Regions from separate parts of the Homo sapiens genome. Here all the other regions are linked to region 3. The links come from fine-mapping of genetic effects on gene expression. A gene starts in region 3. Each other region holds a variant in brackets. All regions are shown on one strand. Distances are from middle to middle. Region 1 has its middle 120 kb from the start of LINC02780. Region 2 overlaps TP73 (tumor protein p73). Region 3 holds the start of TPRG1L (tumor protein p63 regulated 1 like).

Region 1 (8,181 bases), 470 kb after region 3:
TCTAACTTGGAGATCTGGGCTGAGAAGTCACAAAAGTTCAGAGTCAGGCTGCAGAGAAAGGATGAAAACATGGGAAGATGGTCCTTCCCACGAGTCAACCCTGTTCATTTTCCACAGCCAGTTCTGCTGCTGGACTCTTCCCTGACTCCCTGTAGAAGGGCCTCCTTCCCACGCATTCCATGCCCCTCTCTTTCAGCAGTGTCTCAGGGGCTGGATGTGGGATGCAGATCCTGATGCAGCTACTCAACAGCTGCTGACCTCAGTTTCCTCATCTGTGAAACGAGAGTGATTGGGCCCCAGCTTCCTGGGATTGTGGTGAGAAATAAGTAGGATACTGAGGAGTCCTCCAGGCATGGGATTTGATTGGGACAGAAGTTCCATCCACCCAACCTCTCTTGTACCTTCCCTGTATTTGCCAGGGTGCAAACCAGGGACTTCACACTCCTGTGTCAATCATGAAATGTCTCTCCCCTCCTCCTTCTTCTTTCCAGCACCCACCTTCCTTCTCTGTTTGATCAGTGGTCCCGAGGGAGAGACTGCAGGTCTTGGGTGTGGGGAGGCAGGGAGCTGCAGGGGACTGGAAGGGTTTGGGAGGGGTAAGTGGGTGGGAACCCTAGGATCTGGGGTGGGCTAAAGGTGGGGCATGGGTAGGTGGGGCCAAGGTGGGGTCTGGCCTCTCACTGGGAGGGAGATTATCCATTTACTTATTCATTATTTGTTCAGCAAATATTTCTTGAGAACCTTCCAGGCACTGGGCACTGGAAGTCAAGGGAAGATGGGGTGCAGGCTGCCCCAGAAATGAAGACAGGGCATCCTCATGGATTTCTTCACCGAGGTGGGGGCAGGGACTGCAGAGAAGCTGGCTCAGTGGACCAAGGCACCTGAACACACACCTGCTGGGCTGTTAGGGAAAGAGCCCCCGGCCAGGGTGGACACTGGTGTCTCTCAGCCACCGCAGGCCGTGGGGGTGGGAGGTGAGGCCAGGGAACACTCGGGGCACAGACACGAAGCCCAGCCCAGCTTCACCTGCTCCTTCTCCAGCCCCTCTGGCCTTCACTGTATCCACCCATTTGTTGTCAGGCTGACAGTGACTTTAGTGGGTCAAATAATGACCCCACAACATTCTCATCTGCCTGGAACCATAGAGTATGAGCTTATTTGGGGATTGGGTCTTTGCAGATGTAACTGGTTAAGGTGCAGTCATACTGATTAGGGGGAGCCCTAATCCAATGACTGGAGTCCTTAGAAGAAGAAAAGATCTAGAAACACACAGGGAGAAGGCCACATGACTATGGGGCGGAGACCAGGTGCCGTTGCCTCAAACCAAGGAACATGGGACATTTCAGCAAACCACCAGCAGCTGGATGAGGCTGGGGCAGATTCTCCCTCCCAGCCTCAGAAGGAACCAGCCCTGTACACACTTGGATTGTGGACTTCTGGCCTCCAGAACTGTAAGAGAGGAAATTCTTGTTGTTTTAAGACACTCAGTGTGTGATACTTTGTAGAGAGGCACTGGCCCCCTGACATCCTGCCTCTATGAGCTGAGCATGTGCAGAGGCTGTCAGAGGAGCAGTCCGCGTCCCTGGGCAGAGGACCTCCCAGAATTCTGACCTATGGAAACTGTGAGACAGTAAATGCGTGATGCTTTTTTTTTTTTTTTTGAGACGGAGTCTCGCTCTGTCGCCCAGGCCGGACTGCGGACTGCAGTGGCGCAATCTCGGCTCACTGCAAGCTCCGCTTCCCGGGTTCACGCCATTCTCCTGCCTCAGCCTCCCGAGTAGCTGGGACTACAGGCGCCTGCCACCGCGCCCGGCTAATTTTTTGTATTTTTAGTAGAGACGGGGTTTCACCTTGTTAGCCAGGATGGTCTCGATCTCCTGACCTCATGATCCACCCGCCTCGGCCTCCCAAAGTGTTGGGATTACAGGCGTGAGCCACCGCGCCCGGCCTGCGTGATGCTTTCAGCTGCTAAATTTCTGGTAATTGGTTAGACCACATAGAACAATGAATACGATGAGGCACATAAACATTTCCTTAAGAATATTTTTTCTGTCTCTGTAGCTGAAAAATTGATGCTACTATGCCGGAAGCTTTTTCCCTGCCAGCCCCCTCCCTGCCCTGACTTGGAACACGAGTTCGGTGATGCTGAGAGTGGGTGAAATGTGTGTGTCATACTTTGCTTCTTGAGAGGCTGATTGGTGAGACAACTGGGGATTGGCTGGGATGACATCATCTTTTATTTATCAGAATTTCACACTTAGATGTCTGTAAATAAAACATTAGAGAAATAGTGTGGGTCTAATCACAGGCCAGAGGGGTCACTGTTCCCAGAGGAACCAATGAGCTCAGTGTGAGGCAAAGCTGCTGCTTCCCCAGGAAAGGACATTTCCCAGAGGTGGACACTCCCTCGGGTCCCAAGCCAGTAACCCTCCTTTCCACACCTGCCTCCTCAGAGGAATGGGACTGTGCCATCTTGGTACCAACTCCTGACACTCTCAGGTGGTAACCATGGGCAACACTTTCGCCCACTTAGATTTATTAGGAGAACCTGAGAAGCCCGAGAGCAAATGCAAAATCAAGTCACCAGGCAAACAGAACCAAATCAACGTTGTACTGGGGCAGAATCCCCTGGGAGAAGAAAGGGAGCTCAGGGTGGCCAAGAGGTCGGCACAAAGAATGTGAGGCAGCAGTTCCATCACCCTGGAATCCTGGGACCAGCTGCGGCCATTCACACATTCCTCCAGCAGGCTGAGCCTTGCTGCCCGTAGGTTGATGGGCCAGGTACAGGGTGGGTGGGAATGGGGGTGCATTGGACACCGTACCTGATAACTGGACTCTTGAGGTCCCTGAGTGAAGAGCCCACAGGGTAGTAGTAGCTGACATTTATGTAACCCTCTGTAGATTCTGTCTTGGTGTCACCTCTTTTATTGCTAATATTGGTAATTTATGTCTTATCTATATTTTATGTGAACAGTCTGACTAGAAGTTTCAAAATTTTGTTTACCTGCTCAAAGACCCTAGCTTCTAATCTCATCAATTTCTATTGTTTTTCTGCTTCTCATTTCATTGATTTCTACTCTGGTCATTATTATTTTCTTTTAGTTACTTAGGGTCTAATTTGCTATTCTTTTGCTGATTTCTTAAGGGGGAAGCTGATGTCAAAGATTAAAGGTCTTTCTT[C/T]TCTCTAAAGTAGGTATTTCAGTGCTATCAATTTTCCTCCAATTACTGCTTTGGTTGCATCCCACAATTTAGATAAGTTATGTTTAATTTTTATTACCAATTTCCAGTTTTTCTTTTGATTTTTTTCTTCAACCCATGGGCACTTTTGAAGTATATTATTTGATGTCCACGTATTTGTGAGTTTTCTTGATATTTTTTCTCTTATTGATTTCTAGCTGAATTCCACTGTAGTCGGAGAATGAATGTACTTTATACAACTTGTGTGTAGGGAAAAGCTCTTTCAAATGGTGCTTTTCCTCTACTCTCACACCACAACAACCGTCAACACAGAAGAGACTTCTGTGACCAAATGTGTGTGGGTTTTCTCCATGCATCAAGCAGCAGACACCAGCTGGGTGTCCTCCAATTCAGTTCTGACACTGTCTACCCGGAGATAGCACCAGATCCCACAGGGTGAGGGATCCATCCCACAGGACAGTCCCCTCCCCACCCACAGTAGCAAGTCTAGGCCTCTGGAAGTTCTGACCACCTGGCTTCAAGCTGGGGTTCTCACAAACCCTTCTTTGGATTTGATTGATTTGCTAGAGCTGCTCACAGAATGCAGAGAAACACTTGTGCTTACTGGTTTATTAAGAAGGATATTTTAAAGGATATAAATTAATAGCCAGATGAAGAGATACACAGGGCAAGGTCTGGAGGGGTCTTGAGCATGGGAGCTTCTGCCCCTGGAGTTGGGGCACACCACCCTCTGGACACATGAATGAGTTCTTCACCTTCCTGTTGGCCTCCAAGTATTCAACTCTCCGGAAGCTCCTGCACCCTAGTCCTCTTGGGTTTTTATGGAAGCTTCATGTAGTTAGCACTTCTTCCCCAGGGATAAGGTGGGACCCTTTTTGGGGAGAGTCTTAATACCCACAATCAGAAAGGTGGGGGAATATTAGAGTCGTGCCTTGGGGCAGGTGAAACGAGGGCAGGAGAAGATCACAGACTTTTTCTTTCCTGAGGCCTACCCCTGAGGCCCTGACACACCCAGCTTTATGGTAAAAGACAAGAGTTATGGGGCCAGGCGCCGTGGCTCACTGCCGTAATGCCAGCACTTTGGGAGGCCTAGGTGGGCAGATCACCTGAGGTCAGGAGTTCGAGACCAGTACGGCCAACCGTGGTGAAACCCTGTCTGTACTAAAAGTACAAAAATTAGGCAGGCATGGTGGTGCACATCTGTAATCCCAGCTACTTGGGAGGCTGAGGCAGGAGAATGGCTTGAACTCAGAAGGCGGAAGTTGCAGTGAGCCGAGATCGTGCTACTGCACTCCAGCCTGGGAAACAGTGAGACTCTGTCTCAAAAAAATAAAATAATAATAATAAAAAAAAGAGCTATGGGAGTTATGAGCCAAGAACCATGGACAATAGCCAATACATATCATAACACCATGTATTAGGCTATTCTTGTATTGCTATAAAGAAGTACATGAGACTGAATCATTCATAAAGAAAAGAGGTTTGATTGGCTAACAGCTTTGTGGGCTGTACATGGAGCATGGTGCCAGCATCTGCTCAGCTGCTAGTGAGGCCTTGGGCTGCTTACAATAATAGTGGAAGGCAAAGGGGAGCTGACATCGCATGTGGGGAATGTGGGAGTAAGAGAGAGGAGGGAGGTGCCACACACTTAAACAACCAGATCTCAGGTGAACTCACTAAGGGAGAACTCATTCATCACCAAAGGGATGGCACCAAGCCCTTCATGAGGGATCTGCCCCATGATCCAATCACCTCCCATCGGGCCCCATCTCCAACATTAGGGATGACATTTCAGCATGAGATTTAGAGGGGGCCACATCCAAACTCTATCGCACCACAGCTCGTATCTTTTGAAATCCATTGAAACTTGTTTTATAAATGAGACTATGGTCTATGTCGGCAAATTTTCCATGCGCACTTGAAAAGAGCATGCGTGGTGCTGTTGGGTGGAGTGCCTTTTAAATGCTAAGTAGATCAACCCAGGTGATAGTGTTACTCTATATCCTCATGGATTTTCTGTCTACTTGTTCCACCAATTATTGAGAAAGGGGTGTTGACTATAATTGCCATTTATCTCTCTCCTTGCAGCTCCTTAAGTTTTTGCTTCAGGGATTCTGAAGCTTGTTAATTAGGTATATGGATGTTTAGGGTTGTTATGTCACTTTGAGGAACTGACCTCTTGATTGTGATGAAATTACTGTCTTTATCCTTATTTTAGTATTCTTTGCTCTAAAATCTACTTGTCGGATATTTGTATAGCCGCCCCAGCTTTCTCATGGTTAGTATATTTTTTTGCATCCATTTAATTATAACTTATTTGTGTCTTTATACTTGAAATGAGTTTCTTGTAGGTTTCATATTGCTGGTGAACTCTTGCTTTTAAATTTTTAATTTGTACATGACATGTACATAATCTGTACAAAAGATTTGTACATGACTTGTATAAAAATTATACAAATAATTTTTTTATGATTTCTATACATAATTTGTCGTTTTCTCTGGTTGCGGTTTGGTTATGATATCCCTTGGTGTCATTTTTTGTCATGTTGCTTGTTGATATGGTTTGACTGTGTCCCCACCCAAATCTTAGCTTGAATTGTAATTCCCATAATTCCCATGTGTCCTGGGAGGGACCTGGTGGGAGGTAATTGAATCACGGAGGTGGTTTCCCCCATGCTGTTCTCGTGACAGTGAGTGAGTTCTCATGGAATCTGATAGTTTTATAAGCATCTGGCATTTCCCCTGCTGGCACTCATTCTTTCTCCTGCCACCCTGTGAAGAGGTGACTTCCATCATGATCGTAAGTTTCCTGAGGCCTCCCTAGCCATGCAGAACTGTGAGTCAGTTAAACCTCTTTTCTTTATAAATTACCCGGTCTCGGGTATTTCTTCATAGCAGTGTGAGAATGGACTAATATACTTGTACCTGGGGTTCATTGAGCTTCTTGGCAGTTTTCATCAAATTTGAATAATATTAGGCCAGTATTCCTTTACATGTTTACTATCCACCCTCCCTCTTATAAAAGTAAGACCCACAATTGCATCCATATTAGGCTATTGAAATTGTCTCATGGTCCATTGATACTTTGTATATTATTTTCAGCCCCCTTTCCATGACATTATGGGTGACTTATATTTCTATGCCCTGAAATTTATATATATATATAATTATAATATATATAATATATATATTATAATTATATATATTATATATAATTATATAAAATATATATTATAATTATATATATTTTATATAATATATATATTATAATTAATATATTATATATAATATATATATTATATATAATATATATATTATATATATTATATATAATATATATAATATATATAATATATAATATAATATATATATTATATATAATATATAATATATATAATATATTATAATATAATATATATAATATATAATATAATATATATAATATATAATATAATATATAATATATAATATATATAATATATAATATAATATATAATATATATAATATATAATATAATATATAATATATATAATATATTATAATATAATATATATAATATATAATATAATATATATAATATATAATATAATATATAATATATAATATATATTTAATATATTTATTAATTATTTGTTATATATTTATTAATATATAATATATAATATATTTAATATATTATAACTATATATTATATTATAATTATATATATTATATATATACAATTATAATTATATATTATATATACTTATAATATATATAATATATAATATATAAATATAATATATGTATTATATATATTATGCTATTGATCTCATCCAGTGCAGTTTTTCAGAACTGATATTGTAGTTTTCATCTCTATAAGTCTGAATTGGTATTTTTCCTTCTGTATCTGTATATACTGAGACTGTGTTCAGTCTCTTTCCTCTAGCTTCTTGAACACACGAGATAATGTTATAGCAACTTTTAATGTTTTCATCTACTAATTCTATAATCTGTGCTATCTCTGGGTAATATTTTCCTGCTTCTTTGCATGTCTGATAAGTTTTGATTGCATGCCACACACTTGAATTTTGCCTTATTGCATGCTGTATATTTTTGTGTTCCTATAAATACTCTTGTGCTTTTTTCCAGGATATGGTTGTGTTACTTGGAAACAGTTTGATCTATTTGGTCTTGCTTTCAAGCTTTCGTACGCGGGCTCAGGGTAGTGTTTCATTGAGGACTATTTTGCCCCAATACCAAGGCATAACCAAGGCATAGGACCTCTGAGTGTTCTCCCCTATGGCTCATCAATTATGAGGTTTCCCACGCTGGCTTGTGGGAGCAGGCATTATTCTTGATCTGGTTGGAGCTCTAGAATTGTTCCCCTCTAATTCTTTCAGGGTATTTTTCCCTGGCCTCAAGTCATTCTCTCACTGGCATCCATTGGCAAGTACTCAATACGAGATGTTAGGGAGACCTCAGCCAATCTGCAGGTCTCTGCTTTCTCTCTTGTCTCTGGCACTCTGATGCAGCCGCCTCTGCCTTCCTGGACTTTTTAGCAGAGTCTCCTCAACTCAGAGGCTGCGGGATCTGCCTGCATCCCCCTCCCCTGCTGCTGCCTGGAAACTCTGTCCAGGTGGTGAGCTTGGGCTTACACTCTTGTGTTTCTCATTTCTCAGGGACCACTGTCCTTCACTGCCTGATGTCCAATGTATTGAAAACTGTTGCTTCATATACTCTGTCAGGTTGTTTCAGCCAGGGTGTAACCTGACCCCTGTCACTCTATCTTGGCTGCCCCTTATACGGTACAGCATCTAAATCTCTGCTAGAAAATATCCTCCACCAGGAACTACATCCTGTGGGTCTGTACCTCCCCCAAGCCCCCACGCACCTTACTGAGCTGATTCTTCATGCATTTTTCCTGAAAGGCTCAAGGCGTCTCAGAAGTGTGGGGGCTGATGCCAGTCTTTTCTAAGTGTGAGATTCATCTTCCCATTTGC
Region 2 (8,181 bases), 54 kb after region 3:
CCCTTGCTCAGCTCCAGGTCAGGCCAGGGTAGAGCCAGGCTGCTGGGTTCGACCTCCACCCTGACCAGCTGTGTGCCCATGGAGGGCTGGTCTTCCCTCTCTGTGCATGTCTCCTGGTTGGTAACAGGTGTGTGGCCTCACTGGGCCGTCGTGGGGTGGCTGGAATCCCCGGGAATTAGCCATGCTTTGGTGTTTCTACATTTCACTTGGCTGAGTGTGAACTGACCCAGGAAGCTGGTTGGGGGCACCCCCACCCACGGGGGGTCGGGCATTTTGGTTTGGTCATGGCCTCAAAGCTTCTGGGGTGAGGCTCAGGGATTCCCCCAGACTGTCCTGGGCATCTGCCTCCCCTCCCCTCCCGCTTCCCGTGGGCCACGGCCCAGGAGAGAGAGGGCAGCTTGCTCAGGCACCTCCAGCTGTCCGCATATTTCACACGGTGCACGCTACCCCACCGTGGGAGGCTGTGTTTGTCTTTCATCCCCATGCTGGGCTTCCCCAAACTAGGGGAGTGGGGCAGCAGGCGTGCCATCTGTGGCGGTGAGGGGGGCTCTCAGCCGCATCCTCCTCACCAGGCCCTGCGGACAGGCCTTCGTCCCTGCCCCTGACCTGCTGACGAAGCCGTCCTGGCAACCCTGTCTGAAGGACCTGGCCCCATCGTACCCACAGAGGGAGGCCACATGGTCCTTAGCCTCTGTCGGGAGGGGCAGGCAATGCTGGCAGAGGGCCTTGCCCCTGAGAGGGAGGCCCTCCTGGCCCTCACTCCGGGGGACCCCTGTCCTTGGCCCCAGCCTGCCAAGCGAGAGCGGCCCCTCTTCTTGCGGTGGCTGGAGGGGAGAGTGAGGCCCCTTGGCACAGAGGGCCCCAGGAGGCTGGGCTCTGATGACGCCCTGCAGGAATTCCGCTGGGCTGCTGCCTGGGAGAGCCGCTGTCTCACACAGGGCCAGCCTGCCTGGCTTCATTCTGGTGCGCTGACCGCCCGACCCCTCTGCCCAGGCGGGGGCTCTTCTGGGTTCTGGGTCCTGGGACCTGCCTGAGTCCCTGGGAAAAGGGCACAAGGGGATTGAGACGGTCTCCTCCCACAATGGCCCAGGTGTCTCCTCCCACAATGGCCCAGGTGTCTCCTCCCACAATGGCCCAGGTGTCTCCTCCCACAATGGCCCAGGTGTCTCCTCCCACAATGGCCCAGGTGTCTCCTCCCACAATGGCCCAGGTGTCTCCTCCCACAATGGCCCAGGTGTCTCCTCCCACAATGGCCCAGGTGTCTCCTCCCACAATGGCCCAGGTGTCTCCTCCCACAATGGCCCAGGTGTCTCCTCCCACAATGGCCCAGGTGTCTCCTCCCACAATGGCCCAGGTGTCTCCTCCCACAATGGCCCAGGTGTCTCCTCCCACAATGGCCCAGGTGTCTCCTCCCACAATGGCCCCAGGTTTCTTTGCCACTTCAGATTGGAATCGTTGATCTGCTGAAATAACAGGTAAAATCATTGGTGGTTTGGGAACCACCGGAATCAGAAGTGCATTGAGATGTTTGCTTTAGGGGTGGCCCGGGGCGGGTGGAGTTCCTGGGGGCTTTTCCCTCCTCCCTGAATGGAGGAGGACACCCTGCACCCCTCCTGTGATCCCCCTTAAGAGCCAGTGTCCGGGATGGCTGGGCCAGACGGGGCAGAGGGGCCTGTGTCTCCTGCCCAGGCTGAGTGCGGACGGCTCGGTCTCAGAGCTCCACCGAGGGGTGGGTAGGTAACAGCAGCCCTGCGGCCAGGGCCCCTGCAGGTGGGAGTGGGTGTCCCCATGGGGAGTGCCTCTTCCAGAGTGGGCTCAGTCGGGGTGGAGTGTCCTGGCTTATCAAAGGTGGTTGTGGAGCCCTGTCTGCCCCAGGCCTGGGCAGAGGTGGAAGGGGTTGGGGAACTGACGAGGCCTTACCTGTGGGCCCATGGCCAAGGAAATGTCTGGTCTCCCACCTCCTGTCAGGTGGTGAGGGGAGAGGATGGGGCGTCAGCCGGAGACGGGGTTCCTAGAGGAGGCTGGGTCCTGGCCTGGCCTGGAGAGATAGGGATGAGATGGGAGGGCAGGAAGGGGGTGGTAGACAAAGGCTGAACACAGAGAGCACATAGCCAGGCATGTGGGGACTGGGGACAGGGGACAAGGAGGGCACCCATGGGGACAAGAGATAGGGAGAGGACAGAGGGACAGGAGACGGGGAGGGACAGAGGATGGGGGACAAGGAGGGGACAGGAGGACGGGGACAGGGAGGGGACACAGAAACAGGAGCTAGGACGGGGACAGAGGATGGGAGAAGGAGAGGTCAAAGGGACAGGGAACAGGGAGGGGACCCATGGGGATAGGGCAGGGATCTATGGGGACAAGGGACAGGGAGGGGACAGAGAAACAGGAGATGGGGAGGGGACAGAGGGATGCAGACAGGGAGGGGATAGAAGATGGGGGGCTAGGGGACAAAGGGAAAGGGGACAGGGAAGGAACCTATGGGGGACAGGGAGACAGGGGGACAGGGAGAGGACAGAGGAACAGGGGACAGGGAGGGGATGCTTGGGGACAGGGAGGGAATGCTTGGGACAGGGCAGGGGGACAGGGGGCTGTGGCTTTCGTGGGAAGCTATGGAAGACGAGGCCAGAGGGGTTGGGCAGGGTGAGATGAGAGAGGCTGAGAGCCCCTCACCGGCTGCGGACTCCTCCCCACAGGGCAGAGGGGAGCATTCGGGTGCGGCCAGGCCATCAGAGGACCTGGGCTTGGCTGGAGTCCCAGCTCCTCAGCCCTCAGTAGCTTTGGGCCAGCCACTGGGCCTCCTGGCCTCCACTTGCTCATCTCTGAACTGGGGCAGGGTTGGCGTGTGAGCCTGAGGCCCTGCAAAGTGCCTGGCCAGCCTCAGCTCGGAGCCATGGCACAGCACCCCCTCTCCGCCACGGCCCCGACAGCTGGGCGTGCGTTCTGCTGTGGGCAGCTGCCCTGAGCAACGTAGGGTGCTAAGCAGCATCCCTGTCTTGCACACTAGATTCCACAGCACCCTCTGACCCCGTGGAAAATGTCCCCACATGGGAATATCCTCTGGGGGTGGAACTGCCCCTGGTGAGAACCCCTAGGCTGAGACCTCAGAAGGCCCTGAGTCAAACCGAGAAGTCATCAGAGAGCCTTGTTTTCAGCTCCAGGGAGCTTGGGCAGGCTGGTTTTCTGGGCCACACAGTCCCCTCCCCAGCCCACCTGTGCTCCGTGGGTCCCGGGGAAGCTGTGGGGGCCTAATTGCTGGTGTGAGTTCCTTTCCTGTTCTGAGTCACACGTGTGTGGGGGCTCTCCCTGTGGTGCAGCTGGTACAGCGGCCCCTGGAGTTGAGGATCCAAGCAGGCTGAGGTCTGGGTTTGCCGGAGGGCCCTCGGTGGCTGGTCTTTGTCCTGCTCCCACTGCTGTGGGCACTGTAGGACTTGGAACGCTGGTCACCTTTCCAGCCTGGCAAAGGGAGGGGACTTGTCTGAGGCCTCATGGAAGTTGGGGCAGGGTCGAGGTGCCCTGCTTCCTGGGTGTGCCAGCAGCCTACAGCCTGGCTACAGCGTAACCAGGAACACCCAGCACAACTGTCCTTTGCAACTCTGTGCCCTGACTTGATGGTGCCAGGGCTGGGGGGGTGCCGGCCAGCAGCTCCCCAATGACCACCCCCAAATGCTGTGGCCACACAAAGCCTTCCACTGCAAGACCTGTGGTAATACACACTGGA[C/G]GCCCCTGTTACAACTGAGAACTCATTTATTTCATTTCCTTCCTTCCCTTTTTTTTTTTTTTTTTTTTAGAGTTGTGGTCTAGCTCTGTTGCCCAGACTGGAGTGCAGTGGTGCAATCATGGCTCACTGCAGCCTCGAGCCCCTGGGCTCAAGTGATTCTCCCACCTCAGCACCCTGCGTGGTTTGGACTGCAGGCACATGCCATCACGCCCTCATGCCCAGCTAATATTTTTTTAAGTTTTTGGAGAGCTGAGGTCTCCCTGTGTTGCCCAGGCTGGTCTCAAGCCCTTGGGCTCAAGTAATCCTCCCTCCTTGGCCTCCTAAAGTGTTGGGATTACAGTTATGAACCACTGCACCCAGCCCATCCCTCCTAGACTAAATCTTCTTAGAAAAACCTACACTTCCAATAATGTATTTGCATTTTATGATGTTGATAAAACTTCCTAAAGATGTCTTATGAAATTGGTCTCCTTTCCCCATTGATACACATGATTTTTAAAACTATTGGCAACGTTTCAAAAGCAATTTCTGTTTTGTCCCAGAACCGTGATCCCCTTGTGAACGAATTTTCAAATTAAAAGGCAAATGGTTGGGAAAATTGGATTTAATTGAAAGGCCATTTTATTAGAATTGACTTATTTTTCTCGCCACTGGGATCCTTGCCTGAAAGGCGGCTGTGGGCAGAGGGCACATACTCCCCCTGCCCCAGCGCAGCGTCCCTGCACCCCCAACAGAGCTTCCTGTTCCTCATGCCCAGTACTCCCAGATGCCTGCGGAGCCAGTCATCAGCTCAGGTGTGTGAGGCCGGTTGGGGGAGCCCCTGCCTGGCGCCTGTGCCTGTGAGCAGTGTTCCTGTGGGGCCCTGGGACCAATGCTACCAGCGTTGGCGTTTTCCCAGGAAGTTGGGAATCAGGCATCTCGTGGCTTCCGGTTCAAGTTCCTCCGTGTGCTTTAAGTCTGGGCAGGTTTCCGGGTCCTGGTTTTGGCTAATGAGGAACCCGATTCCCATGGGGGAGGCCGGTGGCTGCAGCAGGGCCCCGAGCAGTGGCAAGGCTGGCCCTCATGACAGTGTCCTCCTCAGGGGGCCTGTCCCAGGCTCTTCATGACTCCCCTGGAGGCTTGTTAAAGGGGCAGATTCCTGGGCCCTGCCCCAGCCCCACTGTGGGGAGGGGTGTCCTGGAAGATGCATCTGCCCAGGGCTTCCGGCTGGTCCACACGCCTGCACCTGGAGGCCCACTGCCCACATCTCAGGCAAACAGGCCTGGGGATGTTTGGGGACCCAACTCCTGGCGTGGAGGAAGCCCCTTTCCCACCCCACATGCTCCTGGTGGTGGCCTGTCCTGTGAGCCTGGAGGGCCGGACGGGTGGGATCGGGGACCCACGACCACGCTCGCTGGCCTCTGTCCTGTGCCCAGGCAGGGATGAGAGGCCAAGCTGGTGTCCTGCAGTGCACAGTGGGTGCCGGTCAGGGGATGTGGAAGCTGGGTCTCCGGCAGGCAGAGGCGCGCTGACAAGAAGGGTCGCTGTTCCTCATTCAGGGTTCAGTGGGAAGAGAGGGTGTCGCTTCAGGGGGAGTTCACAGGATGCCGACTTGAAAATACAGCCAACGCCCATGTCCCAGGCATAAGATCACAAATCATGTTTTGCCGACCAGTTCCTGTGAGCCCTGAGCCCTGCGCGGAGGGATGCCCCGTGCACACCTGTTCACGGAACCCCTGGACCTCCAGTAGGGGTGCGGCGGGATGCCGTCGGCTCCCACGCTGTCTGTCTCCCTGTCCCTCTCTCTTTCCCTCTGTTTCTCTGTCTGTCTCTGTCTGTCTCTGTCTCCCTGTCTCTCTCCATCTCTCTCTGTCTCTCTCCCTGTCTCTCTGTCTCTGTCTCTCTCCATCTCTCTGTCTCTCTTTGTCCTTGTCTCTCCCTGTCTCTGTCTCTCTCACTCTCTGTCTCTCTTTGTCCTTGTCTCTCTGTTTTGTCTCTCTTTGTCCCTGTCTCTCTGTCTCTGTCTCTCTCTCTCTTTGTCCTTGTATCTCTCTGTCTCTCTTTGTCCCTGTCTCTCTCTGCCTTTGTCTCTCTCCGTCTCTCTTTGTCCCTGTCTCTCTCTGCCTTTGTCTCTCTCCGTCTCTCTTTGTCCTTGTCTCTCTGTTTTGTCTCTCTTTGTCCCTGTCTCTCTGTCTCTGTCTCTGTCTCTCTTTGTCCTTGTATCTCTCTGTCTCTCTTTGTCCCTGTCTCTCTCTGCCTTTGTCTCTCTCCGTCTCTCTGTCTCTCTTCCTGTCTCTCTCTATCTCTTTCCCTGTCTCTTTCTGTCTCTCTTTGTCTCTCTCTTTGTCCCTGTCTCTCTGTCTCTCTTCCTGTCTTTCTCTTTCTTTGTCCTTGTCTCTCTCTCTCTGTCTCTCTCTTCCTGTCTCTATCCCTGTCTCTATGTCTCTGTCTCTCTTTGTCCTTGTTTCTCTCTGTCTCTCTGTCTCTGTCTCTCTCTGTCTTTGTCCCACCTTAGCCTTGGGAGGGGACAGCTCACAGGCTGACAGATGAGGTCATGTGTCCTGAGCATGAGGTTTTCAGGTCTCACCCACGCTGTAGCATGTCAGAGCTTCGTTCCTTTTCATGGCCGCGTAATGTTCCATTGCTTGCTGGCACCACATCTCCTGTGCCCGGCCCTCTGCTGATGGGCGTCTGGGCTATGTGCACCGTTCAGCTACCAGGAATGGTGCTGCTGTGAAGGGAGCTGGGATTTTGTCATCCACCTGCTGTGGATGGCAAGTCCATTTCCATCTCTGGACTCAGGTGGCCCATCTACAAAATGAAGGGGATGCGACCCAGAGGCCTCTGGCGGCAAAACCTTCCCAGGCTTGTCCTCTTGGATCTAAGGGAATTTCTTTCCTCCGAGTCCAGCCCCTCCAGTGCTCCTGCCCTTCAGGAAACATGCCTGGGACCCCTCACTTGTGCCCACCCAGCCTTGGCCCACATACCTGCACCAAGAGGCTACCCTACTCATACTGCTCAGCCCAAAGGGACCCACCGTGGGGTATGGGCAAGGGCGGGTTCTGCTCTCCCCCGGGGCCCTGTGCCAGCCTCAGCTGGACCTGCGGTTCTGCTTCCTGTCACACTCTCCCATTTTAAATTAACGGAATGGTGCGGTCCCCATGCACACCCTCAGCTCCACTGGGGTTTTAGCCCAGCCCAGGATCGGAGGCCTGCAAGGGCACACCCACCTGGCCACGTGATGGTGAAGTGGGGTGGGGCAGGGCAACCAAATTAACTTCTAATTCTAAGAGCCCCTGGAGCATTCATCACCAGCACTTACAGCCGTGTGACCTCACACAAGTCACTTAACCCCTCTGAGCCTTGGGGCTCCTGAAAAGTGGATGGAGCGGTCACGCCCACCTGGGAGAGGTGGCTTGGGCCAGCACCCTCTAAGCTGCTTGTCCCAGGCCATCATGGCTCACGGACCGCCCCTCAGCCTGGCCTGTGCCACTTCTCCAGGGCCCGGCACGTGGCAGCCACAGGCTTCTATCAGCTCCCGCCTGCCTGGGGAAGGACAAAAACGACAGGTTCCAGGCCATGGCCTGCACCCCCGCTGGCCGTGGGCAGGTCCAGGCCTGCCTGCCTGAGCATTGCAGGGCGGTGGCCAAGCCTGTCCCATAGCACCTCACCGAGGACCTGGGAGGCTGGCCCAGGGGAGAGGTCACCTCAGCCGGGGCTGGGGGCTGTGGGCAGGGTGGGCTCGGGTTTCCCTGTCCCCTCCCCCAGCTGTGCTCTGCCTGGACACTGCCACCTCCTCATGGGTGTCCAGGGCCACTGGGAGCTGGGCCCAGGGGTTCTCAGGGGAGCAATGGTGGAGACAAAGACCAGCGGACGGGCGCTGGGGTCAGAGCTCTCCAATCCCTGGGTGTCTCCTTCTCAAGGCGTGACCACCCAGGCAGTGGCCGGCTGCAGGACAGGGCAGCTTCAAGTTCCCAGCCTTGCCAGGCTTCCCTGTGGCCCTGGGGTGCAGGAAGGAGCCCCAGCTCAGAAGGCGAGGGGGCGTCTGTGTCCTGCAGCAGTGGGCACAGCTAGGCTCTAGCCGGGGGCTTGGCTGCAGCCTCCAGCGCAGCCCTCACACACGCTGTTCCCAAGATGGGGTGACCGGGACCGGAGCCACCTCCAGGTCCCGGGCATCAGGGAGACCCCAAACCTGGCTGCATCCCCCAGGCCAAACCCAGACACAGGGGATCGTAACAGACCACAGGCCTCACACACTTGTTCCGGCCCAAGCATCCCCCAGGCCAAACCTAGACACAGTGGATCATAACAGACCACAGGCCTCACACGCTTGTCCCGGCCCAAGCATCTCAAAGAGTCTGCTCTCCTGAAGGCCCTCAAGGCAGCCCCAGGAGCGGGTGTTGCTGTCACCCCCTCTTCCAAGGCGACGGCTCTGAGAAGCTCCTGCCTGCCCAGGGCACCCCCACGGATGGGTCTGATCC
Region 3 (8,181 bases):
TTGAATTTGAGAGAGATGATTTAGGGTATCTGGCAGAAGAAATTTCTAAGCGGCAAAGCATTTGAGATGTGAGCTGGCTTTTTCTGAAAGTGTACAGTCATGTGCGTTCACAAGGAGATGATCTGAAATTGGAACTTATGTTTAAAAGCAAAGCAGGACATAAAAGTTTGGAAAATTTGCAGCCTGACTATGTGGTAGAAAACCCATTGTCTGGGGGAGAAATTCAAGCCATCAGCTGTAGAAATGTCTCCAAGACATTTCAGAGAGCTTCACGGCAGACCCTCCCATCACAGGCCCAGAGGCCTTGGGGGCAAAATCAGCTCCAGTCAGGGCCAAAAGGGGTCAAGGGACAGCCCAGGCGGAGCCCGTAGGTGTGCAGAAGACAAGAGGTGAACTTCGGGAGACTCTGCCTAGATTTCAGAGGATGTATGGAAACACCTAGAAGTCCAGGCTGAAGTCTGCTGCAGGGGCAGAGCCCTCATGGAGAACCTCTGCTAGGGCAATGCAGAGGGGAAATGTGGGGTGGGAGCCTCCACACACGGAGTCCCCACTGGGGCACTTGTAGGGACCAGCCCTACAGGGTCAGTGGGTCTTTCTCCCCATGTGCAGAGATGAGAGATCGTAGAAATAAAGACACAAGAGAAAGAGATAGAAGAAAAGACAGCTGGGCCCTGGGGGACCACTATTACCAAGGCGCGGAGACCGGTAGCAGCCCCGAATGCCTGGCTGCGCTGTTATTTATTGGGTACAAGACAAGGGGGCAGGGTAAGGAGTGTGACTCATCTCCAATGATAGGTAAGGTCACGTGGTTCACATGTCCACTGGACAGGGGGCCCTTCCCCGTTTGGCAGCTGAGGCGGAGAGAGAGAGGAGAGACAGCTTACGCCATTATTTCCGCATATCAGAGACTTCTGGTACTTCCACTAATTTTGCACCTGCTATCTAAAAGGCAGAGCCAGGTGTACAGGATGGAACATGAAAGCGGACCAGGAGCATGACCACTGAAGCACAGCATCACAGGGAGACAGGCCTCCAGATAACTGTGGGCAAGCCTGACTAATGTCAGGCCCTCCACAAGAGGTGGAGGAGTAGAGTCTTCTCTAAACTCCCCTGGGGAAAGGGAGACTCCTTTTCCTGGTCTGCTCAGTAGTGGGTGCTTTTCCCTTGGCACTGACGCTGCCACTAGACCACGGTCCGCTTGGTAACAGGCGTCTTCCCAGACGCTGGTGTTACCGCTAGACCAAGGAGCCCTCTGGTGGCCCTGTCCGGGCATAACAGAAGGCTCGCACTTGTCTTCTGGTCACTTCTCACCATGTCCCCTCAGCTCCCATCTCTGTACGGCCTGGTTTTTTCTAGGTTATGATTGTAGAGCGAGGATTATTATAATATTGGAATAAAGAGCAATTACTACAAATTAATGATTAATGATATTTACATATAATCATATCTATGATCTAGATCTAGTATAACTCTTGTTATTTTATATATCTTATTACACCGGAACAGCTCGTGCCCTCGGTCTCTTGCCTCAGCACCGGGGTGGCTTGCTGCCCACAGGCACTGACTAGTGGAGCTACGAGAAGGGGGACACTGTCCTCCAGACCCCAGAATGGTAGATCTACCAGCAGCTTGCACCCTGCACCTGGAAAAGCCGTAGGCACTCAGGGGCAGAGCTTCCCAAGGCCTTGGAAGCCCACCCCTTGCATCAGTGTGGCCCTGGATGTGAGACATGCAGTCAAAGGAGATTATTTTGGAGCTGTAAGATATAATGACTAACCCACTAGATTTTGGACTTGCATGGGGCTTTTAGCCCCTTTGTTTTGGCCAAATTCTCCCTTTTGGAATGGGACCATTTACCGAGTGCCAGTACCTCCATTATACCTTGGAAGTAACTAACTTGTTTTTGATTTTACAGGTTCATAGGCAGAAGGGACTTTGTCTCAGATGAGACTTTGGACTGTGGACTTTTGAGTTAATGCTGAAATAAGACTTTGGGGGACTGTTGGGAGGGCATGATTGGTTTTGAAATGTAAAAAGGACATGAGATTTAGGAGGGGCCGGGGTAGAATGATATGGTTTAGCTGTGTCCCCACCCAAATCTCATCTCGAATTGTAATCCCCACATGTCGAGGGAGGGACCTGGTGGGAGGTGATTGGAGCATGGGGGCGATTTCCCCCGTGCTGTTCTTGTCATAGTTCTCACAAGATCTGATGGTTTAAGTGTGGCACATCCCACTACCCCCGCCGCCATGTAAGACGTGCCTTGCTTCCCCTTTGCCTTCCGCCATGATTGTAAGTTTCCTAAGGTCTCCCCAGTCATGTGTAACTGTGAGTCAATGAAACCTCTTTTCTTTATAAATTACCCAGCTTCAGGTAAGTTCTTCATATTAATAGCAGTGGGAAAACAAACAAACACAGTGACCTTATTTGATCAAACATGATGATGATCGACTAAAGATGAGGTCACTAGGGTGGTCCCTAATCCAACAGGGATGTTGCAGAAGAGACCCACCTGGAGAAGGTCGTGTGAAGATGGAGGCAGGGATGGGAGCAGTGCATGAGCAAGCCCAGGACACCAAGCAGGCCTGGCAGAGCAAGACATGCGTCAACCCTCAGGGCTGCAGAGGGAGCATGGCCCTGCACACTCCTTGATTTTGCACTTCTGGCCTCCAGGGCTATGAGGAAACACGTTTCTGTTGTTTTTAAAACAGTTGTTGTTTTTAAAACCAGTTTGTGATGCATTGTGACAGAAGCCCCAGGAAACTCATCCATACTGAGTGAAATTTGTTTATTGTCTAAAATACAGTCCCTCCATCATCTATCCCTCCTATCATTTCTGGAATTTATAGACATCCAAGTCACTCCCCATATCCACAGAAGGCTCAGGCACCTGGTTCAGAATCCTCATTGTCCTGCCAGCTCCCACCAGCAGTCTGCAGCCTCGGCCCCAGCCAGTGTCACTTCATCCCATTCCCTGGACATCTGGTTCCAGGACCACAGCTCCATCCTTGGCGTGGTCCAGAACTTGCTCCTACCTCTCTCCCCCATTCTCCCTCTTTCTCCCCCCCATTCTCTCTCCCTCTCTTTCTCATTCTCCCTTCTCCTCCCTCTTTCTCCCTCCCTCTCTCTGGAATCTCTGGTTCCAGTTGCCCATCACTGACTACAGCTTGCAGCTGTCCAGGTATTTCTCATCTACATCCACTCAGCTCCCTCCCGGCCTCTGTTCTTCCTCCCTCAGGGGTATTCTCCCACTCACCAGCACCTGTTGGATCCGCGGCCATTTCTAACCGGACTGGATACTTGGACCTCAAGGTCCCCGCTGGTAAGATAGCTGGGAGACACTCGTCTGTAGGTCCCTCTGGCAGGTCTTGCTGGGCGTGCCAAGAACACATTGCCCTGACCACTCTTTTCTGGGCCATTTCTCACGCCTGTGCTTGCAGTGGGCACCCTTGCCGGGGAGACAGCCTCCCTGTGGGACAAAGACCACATTGGTCCACAGGATCCAGGGTCCTGTTTTGTAGTGCACCCGCTGTGGTGCAACATGCGTCTGGGCACACCAGCGTCGCCCGTTTCCTGTTGTAGTCTTTCCTCTCTGACTCCAGGGGTATTGGGTCTTTCTGCCAGCGCCCATGCAACTTTGGCAGCCTGGCCTGTCTGCTGGCAAGTGGGGCAGAATCCCTGCACTCCACCATTCTTGGGCAACACTCCCTCTAGGATTTTGGCCTCCCTTTTCTCTCTGGTCTTTGACCACCGCTACCCAGCAAACTCCTCCATCTAGACCAGCCAGCATTGGTTTCTTCCACTCCCCCAGCTGCCGCGTGGGAGGCGCCACTGCAAACTTCCCTGGGGTCTCCCAGCTGCTCAGAGATCCCCATGCCCTTCCCTGATCAGCTCCCTGCCCGGTTCTCATCCCGGCGATTCTAAACCGTCCATCTTTACAAATACTCCGCTCCATCCCCACTCCCTGACTGAAGTAAACAGATGTATCCTGAACTCCTCATTCTCCCCCCATCTCACTCTCCTCGCCTGTGTGCACCTCGCCTCGTGTGTCTTCCTCACCTCCGAGCAGAGGGATCTGTCCTCCTGCCCGAAGGTAACCCTGACCCCTGGACTCTGCGCCTCCTTCCCGCAGCCTCCACCAGATTGCGGGTCCGTTCACCGCCCCCCTCCACACGCGCTGGGGGCACCTCCGGGAGCTGGGGCTAGCGCAGGGCACACACATGTTCCACCTCGAACTGCGAGCGCTGACCGGGATCTCTGGGCAGCCCTCTCTGTGTGCACTGGCTTGCTGAAGGCTCGCGACAGCCTGGGCCCGGGCGCGCATTCCAGCACTTTCTACCCTCCGGCTTCAGAGTGCATTGCTCTGTGGATCCGTCACGAATAAGCCGTGTGTGAAGAACGCCAGGTCCCGGCAGAAGATCGCTGCCCGGCGTGCGAACTCCCCCACGGTGCACCAGGGCCGCCGCCCTGCATCCTCCAACCTCAGCTCCCCGGCACCGCGACCCTCCGTGCAGTGCGAGCCCCCGATGGGCGCGCGCCCCCACCTGCGCTCCAGAAGGCCGAAGGGGGCATCCCACTTGCAGGGCGGGTCACCCGCTTTCCCCGCGGGCCAAGGGGCTCCAAGATTCCCAGCCCCTCCTTCCCAGCCGCTCCGCGACACCCTGGCAACCGGCTTCGGCCCCGCCCCTTCTCGTTGTGTAAACAGGAAGTGAGCCTGCGCGTGACGGTCGCTTCCGGCCCGGCGAGGGGCGGGAGCGATTGTGAACGGCGGCGGGGCAGAGCCAATCGCGGAAAACGGCAGGAGGAGAGCCAATCCCGAGGGTCGGCGGACGCGGGAAGGGGCGGAGCCAGAGGCGGGGCCGGCAAGGCGGAGCCAATCGCGGCGGTCCGCGGGGCGGGGCCGGGGGCGCGGCCGGGTGGTGGCGGTGGCTGCGGCGACGGCGGTCGCGTCGGCGTCAGGGTCGGGGTCGGTAAGGGGTGCGGCAATGCTGCAACTGCGGGACTCGGTGGACTCGGCCGGTACGAGCCCCACGGCGGTGCTGGCGGCCGGCGAGGAGGTGGGGGCAGGCGGCGGCCCGGGCGGGGGGCGGCCGGGGGCGGGGACGCCGCTGCGCCAGACACTCTGGCCTCTCAGCATCCACGACCCCACGCGCCGCGCCCGCGTCAAGGAGTACTTCGTGTTCCGGGTGAGGCAGGGGCCAGGGCCGGGGCGGGGGCCGAGGGCGCGGGGCGGGATGGGGGCGGGTGGGGTCGGAGGCGGGCGCCGGGCGGTCCCGCAGGGAGCGAGCTGTGACCTGTGATCTTTGCCCCCGTCCCCCACCCCGCAACCCGCCCAGCCCGGCAGCATCGAGCAGGCAGTGGAGGAGATCCGCGTGGTGGTGCGGCCCGTGGAGGACGGCGAGATCCAGGGAGTGTGGCTGCTTACCGAGTAAGCCGGGGCTGCGCTCTCCTTGGTGGGGGGACTCGCCCCGAGCCGCCGCGCAGCACCTTGCGAGGACTTCCCGGGGTGCTCGTGCCACGCTCAGGCGCCCCGTGCCGCCCCTGCTGCCCTTCCAGGCGGGCTGGCCTTGGCTAAGTCGAGACAGCCGCGTCCAGTGTGGACTGAGGCCCCTCCTCTGCCTACAGGGTGGATCACTGGAACAATGAGAAGGAGCGGCTGGTGCTGGTCACGGAGCAGTCCCTGCTTATCTGTAAATACGACTTCATCAGTCTCCAGTGCCAGCAGGTGGTGCGGATAGCGCTCAACGCAGTAGACACCATTTCCTACGGAGAATTCCAGTTTCCCCCTAAATCGCTCAACAAGTAAGCCTGTTCAGAGTCCAGTATCACTGGACCTAAGCACCAGAGTGGACCTTACAATTCAGCCCTTTTAAATCAGCCCCCCAAGCGGTGTGTCTTCTCTGTCATTAATTATAAGCACAAAGGCTCCAGCTCCAAATATCAATGGGAAGTTCCTTAAAAAGAAGCGACTTCTGGGCAATTGAGTGCATTAAAAGGAATTCTGGCACAGAAGGCAGCTATTAGGCTGGTAGTAAAAAGACTTACATGAGTTCAGGATGCATTGAAGTAGAGCCCAGCGTGTTAAAAAGGAACTTGGATGTTCTTCAGGAAAAGTCCAAACTCTGCATTTTTCTCCAGCCAGGGACAGATTGCATATGACACATCAAGTCTTGCTCTGGCTAATTTTTTAAAGAGAAATGGAGGGTCCCGTTGTAATTTATAGATACCACTAAAAGACAAATTTGGAAATATTTAATGACCAGCTTTCAGGAGTTGATCTTTTTGCTGTAGGATAATTTTCTGACGTGAGGAACCTAAACATTACTACAGTCAGTTAAGCTGTAGAACTTGGGTTTTTGATGGAGAGATTTGGATGGGGGATTCAGGAAGCTAAAATAAAAATTTTACCTTTTGGTTAAAACATTTAATATGACATAAGGAAAAGGAAGATTACACTTCCTTTTCACTCATTTGGCTAGCCTATCTATAATTATTCCCTTTTTTTTTTTTTTTTGAGACGGAGTCCCACTCTGTCACCCAGGCACCAGTGGTGCAGTCTTGGTTCACTGCATCCTCCACCTCCTAGGCTTAAGTGATCCTCTCACCTCAGCCTCCCAAGTAGCTAGGACTACAGGTGCCCGCCACCACACCCAGCTAATTTTTGTATTTTTTGTAGAGATGGGGTTTTGCTAGGTTGCCCAGGCTGTTCTCAAACTCCTGGGCTCAAGAGATCCGCCCATTTTGGCCTCCCAAAGCGCTGGGATTATAGATGTCAGCCACCGTGCCCAGCCAGTATTCCTGTTTATTAATTTTTAATCATGTAAAGATTACCAAAATAATACATTTAATAACCAAAATATACCTAATTTGTCATATTTATACCCACAGTATTTAAAGCAATTGTTAGTGGAGATTGAAGTTACTACTAAAAACCACAGGCCGGCCAGGCACGGTGGCTCACGCCTGTAATCCCAGCACCTTGGGAGGCTGAGGCGGGCGGATCACCTGAGGTCAGGAGTTTGAGACCAGCCTGACCAAAATGGATAAACCCTGTCTCTACTAAAAATACAAAATTAGCTGGGTGTGGTGGTGCATGCCTGTAATCCCAGCTACTCCGGAGGCTGAGTTGGGAGAATCGCTTGAACCCAGGAGGTGGAGGATGCAGCGAGCCAACATCAGGCCACTACACTCAAGCCTGGGCAACAAGAGCAAAACTCCATCTCAAAAAATAAAAATAAATAAAAACAAAAATAAAAACTACAAGCCGTTTTCCATTGTGATATGTCATAGGTCTTTTCTGTAAACGTGTGCTTTTTGCTGTCATATTCTCCTAACTGATGAGACTGTCAGATTGTCCATGAGAGCACTGTGGCCTGCCATGCTAAGTCTGGCTATTTCTTCTGACTTTTCAGGCGAGAAGGTTTTGGGATTCGAATTCAGTGGGACAAGCAAAGTCGTCCTTCCTTCATAAACAGATGGAATCCCTGGTCTACCAACGTGCCCTATGCCACTTTCACAGAACACCCGATGGCTGGCGCAGATGAGAAGACAGCATCTCTGTGTCAGGTAAGAAGACAGGCACATAAATAGCCGCGCCCCCCGCAGTGATGGAAACACCCCCCGCAGTCACGGAGACACTTCAGGTCTGCACTGTCCGGCGGCCACGCGGAGCTGCCGAGCACTTGAGACGTGGCTAGAAATGAGAGAGGAAGCTCTCATTTTAGAGTTGATTCCCTAAGTTGTCAGAAATTCTGGTTAATTTATGTTAAAGTAGCCGCATGTGGCCAGTGGCTGCTGGTTAGCATAGCTCCATAATGTGGCCTCCTGATGGTGATCTGGGTGGGGAAGGGCCCCAGCTGGGCTTCAGAGAGTGGCAGCAGACCCAGCCGTGCCAGATGACCAGTGCGGATGCGCACCAGGAGAGGAGGCCTCGGGGCTGGGGTTAGAGCAGAGCCCAGAGCCCAGAGCCTGGCGGGGGTCCTGCACTTCCCCAGCTGTGTGCCTCGGCCTGGTTACTGACCTGGTAGGTTGGGTGACGGCAAAGCCACTCAGCCCTGTATACAGGAAGGGTTCTGCAGGTGCTGGCTGCCATTGGCCACAGGAGAGCATGGTGGCAAGATTTCCACACACCTAGAGAGCTCCGTGGGGACGAGAGTTGAGAGACCCCCAGGATGTGGCAGA

The links.
Region 1: its variant is fine-mapped to the expression of TPRG1L in whole blood (TOPMed, PIP 0.97).
Region 2: its variant is fine-mapped to the expression of TPRG1L in whole blood (TOPMed, PIP above 0.99).

Annotation. Positions count from the first base shown.
Region 1 is chr1:4,093,452-4,101,632 of GRCh38, forward strand. No RefSeq gene overlaps it. Among named protein-coding and RNA genes, the nearest start is that of LINC02780, 120 kb to the left of the region's middle. The variant C/T (reference allele first, on the strand shown) is at 3,181.
Region 2 is chr1:3,673,922-3,682,102 of GRCh38, forward strand. All of the region lies in intron 1 of TP73 (tumor protein p73), which reads left to right. Among named protein-coding and RNA genes, the nearest start is that of TP73-AS3, 9.1 kb to the left of the region's middle. RefSeq lists enhancers at 1-7, 6,768-7,503 and a silencer at 6,311-6,478. The variant C/G (reference allele first, on the strand shown) is at 3,722.
Region 3 is chr1:3,620,088-3,628,268 of GRCh38, forward strand. It overlaps TPRG1L (tumor protein p63 regulated 1 like), which reads left to right and starts at 4,928. Exons shown (of 5, transcript NM_182752.4): 1 at 4,928-5,186; 2 at 5,337-5,428; 3 at 5,626-5,802; 4 at 7,413-7,566. The coding sequence starts at 4,986. It also overlaps a transcript of MEGF6 not described here. RefSeq lists enhancers at 4,202-4,321, 5,302-5,964 and a silencer at 4,772-5,001.